2 linked regions of the Homo sapiens genome follow. The protein of the gene in region 1 interacts with the protein of each later gene in a biochemical or structural test. Each region holds a gene or a part of one and is shown on either strand. Other genes may lie near its edges. The genes, in order: PHF3 and CLK1.

The links.
Region 2: of the proteins of PHF3 (region 1) and CLK1, one has a biochemical effect on the other in vitro, tested with the Homo sapiens proteins (one large-scale study listed by BioGRID).

What each region holds. Positions count from the first base shown.
Region 1 is NC_000006.12:63,712,042-63,715,868, reverse strand, and holds part of PHF3 (PHD finger protein 3), read right to left. Parts: coding exon 2,161-3,827; 3' UTR 1-2,160.
Region 2 is NC_000002.12:200,854,498-200,858,324, forward strand, and holds part of CLK1 (dual specificity protein kinase CLK1), read right to left. Parts: intron 3,593-3,827; coding exon 3,476-3,592; intron 3,388-3,475; coding exon 3,221-3,387; intron 2,489-3,220; coding exon 2,394-2,488; intron 2,315-2,393; coding exon 2,185-2,314; intron 590-2,184; coding exon 507-589; intron 199-506; coding exon 119-198; intron 1-118. UniProt on the Homo sapiens protein: Dual specificity kinase acting on both serine/threonine and tyrosine-containing substrates.

The sequences.
Region 1 (3,827 bases):
ACTGAGAATGGCTTTGGATCTACTACTCATTGAAAAATCTGCTCATTTTCCCTTTTTTTCCTCAAAAGGAAAACCTCAAATAGCTAATATGACCATACCTTCCCTATTCTCCATAAAATGTTTCAGTCAATCAGCGGTTACAAGATCTGCCTCTAACCCCTGGAGATGCTCATCCCTAATAGAAAGCTATATGGGCCTTGCCTATTTTAAAAACATGTATCAAGATTCGATCAGAACTGATTAAAGAATTTTAGATATGTAGAAAAAACTATTAGCGAAGAGGTGATCAAAAACTGACCTAAAAGCTTGTTTTCATTCATTAACCCACTCGTTTTTACTTTCATCTTGCAAAAGAAATCTGGAGTCTGATATTCCCTCAACCAGATATATCAGTAAAGGTAGATTTATTGACGATATACACATTTGAAATTGAAATGTTTTTAAAATGTGTAAAACCCTGACAGCAATTTCTTTGTAATGGTGCAAATTATAACTTAGATTTTGTTTTGTTTGGGAACTAACTTTGTTTTCTAACAAGTTAATTTCCAAAAGAAAAGTGGACCAAAGTTAAACGGGCTTTATTTAAACACAAGTTCTCTGTTTTAGAACCTTATGATAGTAAGTTTCACAGGATAAGGATAGGGAAAAAAGTACTGCAAGTCATTGCAAATTAAATAGAATGTTTGGTTCTGAATTTCCTCCCTTCTCTCCAGCAAAAATAACAAGGATAATTCTGTTTCAAAACCAATTTTTAACTCTAATCTTTAAGCTCTTTAGGAAAACAATCAATTTTGTGGAATTATTTATATTTTTCTTCATTAATACAGGTAAGTAAATAATAGAGTTCTCTTTCTTTTGTATTTTGGAAGGTTTTTCTTTTGTCAGCATCATTTGATAGCTCTTACTTTAAATTACAGCCATCAAAACCATGTGTTTTAGGGTTTAAATAAATTTAGATTTGAATTAACAATAGTTTTCATATTTTTTTTTCAAGTAAAACTGGCATATGAAACTGTACAGTTACTTTACGAATTAGGCTAAATCGCACATTTTATAAAAGGATTCAAAACATATTTCTCTTCAAGTTCTGCGGTCTTTAATTTTAATGATTAGTGAGTCAGAGTACCAAATTGCGATGGTGTAAAAGTTTTCAGAAACTTACCTATAAAGTGGGCTATAGCTGCACAGTGTTTCACAGGTAGTTCTAAATTCTAGCCTCTTTAGAACTACACAATTCATCTCAGCCTACAATTTAAGATTTTAAAAAAATTGTTTTTCCCCTCATCTAATGCCTGACATAGATAGCTATTTCTATATGTTCTTGGCTGAGTAACAAAAAATCAATGTCTGAAGGTAATTAAAGCTTTAAAGAAGAAATTCTTTTACTACTGAATTTCAAGTCACACACACAAAATAGGTGAGAAATTATTTTATCATATTTAGAATCAAAATATCCCTTAAAATATTTACATTTTACAGTAAAAAGGATAGCAAAACACAAGATCATGTACAAGCTTAAGTATTCAAGTTTCTGAAGAGCCAAAAATGAAAATGAAAATAATGGCCTACCACAAAGCTGTAGTATATGGTAATAAATGACTTCAATGAGTGCAGATTAAAGCAATAAATGTACCCCTTGGGCTTCTGATTCTTGGTCAAAAACTGCTCAACTAAATGATTAGCATAATCTGATTATGAAGTTGCTTGGATTTTTGTTGCTCCTCTACAGTTTCTTTAAAAACAGTGCAATTTAAAACAAACTTACAGAGCACACATTACTCCCAAATTAGTCATTATATAAAGGACATTCACTAGAGGAAGTAAATATATTCCATAGTTAACCATATTTACCAATTAAGGAATAAAACTAAAATTTCTAAGCCTTTATTGCATATTAATAAAACAAATCTTTGAATATACAGCAATGTAAAACTTTTAAAAATATTAAATTCCTATAACTAGGGACCGTTGGTATGAAGAAGGGATGATGAGCACTGGTACAGAGCACTCTGTACCAACACACAGAATTTACTGTTCTGCAAATGACCAATAGTAAAAATTTTAAAGATGGCACAATCCTAGCAGGCAATCTTTCTTTTGTTTACAAGATACAACATTTTAACAGTTATTTAAATGTAATCCTGAAGCAGCCTGCAAATTTTACCTTTTGCTTTTAGTTCTGTCAGTGTGGTCCCTATCTTTGTGGTACCTATCCCTGTCCTTTTCTCCTTCTCTGTGTTTACTTTTCTCTCGTTCTTTGTCCTTCTCATAGTCTTCACTTTTAGGTTTATCTGGCTTCTTGTCTACATTCCTACTATCTCTGCTTGCTTTTCCATCTGTTCCTCGATCACCATGTGATAACCGTGCCCTCTCTTTATCTTTGTGCCCTTCCTCCCTGCTTTTTCTGTCTCTGTCCTTGTCTTGGCTTCTGTCTCTGCGTCTATGCCTTTCAGATTCTTGCTCCCATTCCTTTTCATGTCGCTCTCTTTTCAAATGGTGTGAATCACTATAAAATCTCTGGCGGTCCCCTTTACCCCTATTAAATGGCCTATCCAGTTGCTGTTGGTCTTGCCTACCCCAAGGGTCACTATGGCGCCTTTCTGGCCTCCGAATGTCTTTAACCTGGTAAAAATTCTGCGGGCCTATATACCTTGATGCTTGTGAGAGAGGACCCATCATACGCTGTGGCTGACCTGGGAGATGAACAACAGGTGGCCAGGGAACCATGGGATTTTGAGCAAAGCCAAAGCCTGGAGGGGGAAGTAATGGAGGTGGCAAATGTGGTGGAAATCCAAACATGCTTTGTGGGGGAAAATTAGGAGGCCCTGGAAATGGAAATCCAGGTGGGCTAGACTTGAGATGCTGAAGGTTGGGCTGCTGTGGCCTCATGGGTGAAAAGTTTGTACTTGTTCTGGGGCTGGTGCTTCTGGAAGTAAAGGTGATGCTTTTAGAAGGAAATTCTGATGGACATGTGTTTCCAACTTCAAAATGAGATGTCGCTACTGCTGATCCTCTTCGAAATGGGTGCACAGTTTCAATATTTTGCATTAAAATATCCTCCTGTAAGGGTTTTGCTTGTTCTGCTTGAGAAGTCTGTATGTTTTCTACTGATGGTGAGTTTTGTGCAACTTTTAAATTGTCACTCTGCTGAACACACGAGTTTTTCTCTGCAGAACACAACTTTTCCTCTACATTGATTTGTTCTGTTAAGTGCTCCTTGTTGTGTGACAGGCCAGGCAGCATGTGTTTTTCTCCATTCCGGCAACTATCTCCATCTTTGCTTTCTGAAGTAGTTACAGGCTGACTTCGTCCTGCTGCTTGCCTAGGATCCCTTTTCAGGTTGATAAACTGTGGAGACCTCGCTGTATTAGCAACAAGGTTTTCACTACAGCTCACATTACCATCTATGTTTCCTTTTCCTACATTAGATCTGCATGGAGAACTATTTGAAGTCTGGTTATCTTGCAAATTATTCTCTTGATCTTCCTGAAGCTGTCTTTTTAATGTTTTCTCTTTACTCTCCACAGTTTCCTCTTGTTTTGACTGAATTGATAAATTTGTTAAAAATGCTTCTGTAGAAACATCTGGTGGCTTACCTCTGAGACTAAGACTCGTCAAAGACCCTGCAGAAATGGAAGAGGACCCTACTACTGATGTTTCTATTTCTGCTGACTTATCTGTAGATTCTGAAATATTATCTACTTTAACTTTTATCTCCTTGTTTTCACCATCAGTTACTTCCACATTATCTGTTTTCTCTATTTTTGAGTTGGTCTGCTCATTTAAAAATGGAATTTCTTTAACAGTGTTTTGTTCCATCACTGACT
Region 2 (3,827 bases), on another chromosome or scaffold:
TGCACTCCAGCCTGGGCAACAGAGCAAGACTCCATCTCAAAAAAAAAAAAAAAATTAAGTTCTAATCAGCAGATGTGATCAAATGATACTAAGGATGTCACTAACTCTTAAAACGTACCTGGTTTTCTGTATCATATGTTTTGGTAGAGGTCCAAGAATCCTTTCCATCATTGCTAAATGCTCCTTACTATCGTGTGTCTAGAAATAAAATAAAAACAGACTTGGGGAAGATGACCACCAAAACAGACACAGTTAAAGCTGACAGCAAAAAAACTAACATTAAGGCTTGCAGAACAAACTCGCCAATGATTCCCTACATGGACACGGATAATTGCTTATATACTGAAAGATGTTTTAAATAAAACAATTATGAAAGAAATATGAATTAGTTTATTTATGCTTATCTACAATTAATAGTCTATAATGGGGGAAGCAAAAGTATTTATTCATATAAACAGGCACCTTTCTTGTGCAAAGCAAGGTTGAAATAGATCATTGTCACTTACTGGAAATACGGTAAACCCAAGATAGTATTCAATAAGAATGCATCCTATGCTCCAGACATCACATGGTTGGGACCACCCTAGGGCTGCAAAGCAAAGCAAAATTTAAGGAAAAAAAATACTCAATGTTTGTTAAAGAAATTAAAAAGTTAGTTAACACTAATACTTTAAAAAAAAAAACACATGTAATGTAGGCTGGGCACAGTGGCTCACACCTGTAATCCCAGCACTTTGGGAGGCCAAGATGGGAGAACTGCTTGAGCTCAGGAGTTCAAGACCAGCCTGGGCAACACAGCGAGATCCCACCTCTATTAAGATATATATATATCTGAATTGGCCGGGCACAGTGGCTCACGCTACAGGCATAATCCCAGCCCTTTGGGAGGCTGAGGCAGGTGGAACACGAGGGCAGGAGATCAAGACCATCCTGACTACACGGTGAAACTCCGTCTCTACTAAAAATACAAAAACAAAATTAGCCAGGCATGGTGGCAGGCACCTGTAGTCCCAGCTACTCAGGAGGCTGAGGTGGGACAATGGAGTGAACCCCATAGGCGGAGCTTGCGGTGAGCCGAGATCGCGCCACTGCACTCTAGCCTGGGTGACAGAGCAAGACTCCGCCCCCCCCCCAAAAAATTATATATATACACATATATATGCAATGTGATGTTTGAGCTGGAAGATCCTAAAGCAATCACTTAATCCAAGGTTAAATACAATATATATGGCCGGGCGCAGTGGCTTATGCCTGTAATCCCAGCACTTTGCAAAGCCAAGGCAGGCAGATTGCTCCAGGTCAGCAGTTTGAGACCAGCCTGCCAACATGGTAAAAACCCCATCTCTACCAAAAATAAGAAAATTAACCGGGTGTGGTGGTGGGTGCCTATAATCCCAGCTACTCAGGAGGCTGAGGCAGGAGAATTGCTTGAACCCAGGAGGCAGAAGTTGCAGTGAGCCAAGATTGCACCACTGCACTCCAGCCTGGGCGACAGAGTAAGTCTCCGTCTAAAAAATAAATAAATGATAAAAATAAATAAATTATATAGTGTTATATATAGTCTGGAATAAAATAGGCATTAAACAATTTTCTGAGATGGAGTCTCGCTCTGTCGCCCAGGCCGGAGTGCAGTGGCGCAATCTTGGCTCACTGCAACCTCCGCCTCCCGGTGTTCAAGCAATTCTGCCTCAGCCTCCTGAGTAGCTGGAACTACTGACGTGTACCACCACACCCAGCTAATTTTTTGTATTTTTAGTAGAGATGGGGTTTCACCATATTAGCCAGGATGGTCTCGATTTCCTGACCATGTGGTCTGCCCGCCTTGGCCTCCCAAAGTGCTGGGATTACAGATGTGAGCCACCGCGCCCCACCCTTGGCCTCCCAAAGTGCTGAGATTACAGATGTGAGCCACCGCGCCCCACCTGGCATTAAACAATTACATTTAAAAACCCTACCACATATTACAAATGTGAAAACAATTCCAGAAAGGTTAAGCCACTTGCTCAAATTCCCAGAGCTAATTATCTGGTACAATTGAGAGCTTAAAATCCATAATGCACTTCATGATACTTATCCCTTAAAGAGAATATGATAAAGCCCCACAAGTAAGACCTAAAACTGCTAAAAAAATTTTAAGTCTCAATAAGGAAATACAAAGGTTCTCAAAGGACAATTAATACTCACCTAAAATAACTTCAGGTGCTCTATAATGTCTTGTAGATACCAATGTACTGTGATGTTCGTCATCATATGTTGCACTACCAAAGTCTACAACTTTAATATCTGGATTTATTAAGGTGCGTTCATCACGTTTCTGAAAATCATAAATGATGGTTAAGAAGGCATAAGCTATTAAGGCATAAGATACTTTATGAATATTTTGGAAGACTTACTATTTTGGGATTATACGCCTCTGTGTAGTCAGACTGCACAAATAAGATGTTTTCAGGCTTTAAGTCTGTGTGAGTCAACTTATTACTGTGCAAAACTGAGAATAAAGAGAAAGTTGCTGTAATCAGAAAACACCAAACCAAACCAAATCACAAAACCCCACAACAGGCCGGGTGCAGTGGCTCACGCCTGTAATCACCTGAGGTCAGGAGTTCGAGACCAGCCTGACCAATATGGTGAAACCCTGTCTCTACCAAAATTACAAAAATTGGCCGGGTGTGGTGGCGTGTGCCTGTAGTCCTAGCTACTCGGGAGGCTGAGGCAGGAGAATCACTTGAACTGGGGAGGCAGAGTTTGCAGTGAGTGAAGACTGCGCCACTGCACTTCAGCCTGAACAACAAAGCGAGACTCCATTTCAAAAAACAAAAAAACCCAACAAAAAACCTCTGATTCCTTTCCCAAAGAATGGTCAACATTCCAGTCTGCTAGAAAATCACCAGTAACTAAAACTTACTACCTCTTATGAAGCTTTCTTTTATGAGATATATCACGCCTTAATTTTTACCCAGCATTCGAAGTTACTATTTTTGCGCATCAGAAAAGTCTAAATCATAGTCTGCAACAAAGTACGTTGTTATATGGTGGATATCCTACTTGCTGAATGAAATGTACACTGCTGGATCAACAGCCTGTAATCAAATCTCTTCATACCTATTCTTCCTCCCCCTTTATTTTTAATCAAATAAAAATTGTACACACTTAGGATGCACATTTTGATATGTGGAATGGATAAAACCAGCAAATTAACGAAGATATACCAAGAACTTACAATTCACAGACTTGCATATCTGATATGCCATCTTTCTGATATGATCCAGTCGAAATGGTAGAAAACCATTTTCTTTAATGAAGTCGTAAGTACTAAGTCCCAATAGTTCAAAAACAATGCAAATGTGACCATGATGCTCAAACCATTCCAACATCTGGACACAGCGGCTACAAACACATGAAAAATAGCTAAGTATAGTTGCTCCTAATTTAAATATACCTGATACCACTTCCCAAGTTCTAATCTGATACTTACAAAGTACTGTTGGGGTCTGTTGTATTCAGATGTTCCAGAACTTGTATTTCTGAGCGAGCAGCTTCACAGTATCTATCCACATTTTTAACTATTTTTACTGCTACATGTCTACCTCCCCTGTTAGAAAGATGCATGCAAATTTAAGAATGACAGACATGATGCTCAATTCCAGGTATTACTGTCTTCAAACTGTACTACTACTCTGACCCACTGTATTTTTTTAATTTATGGTTTAGTGTTCAGTTCTGATTCTATTACATGCTGAATGACACAAATTTCTTTCATCAAACCACCACTCACATGAGTTATTTTTTGGTATTTCAGCTAAACAACTTCTTCCTATATGGTACCT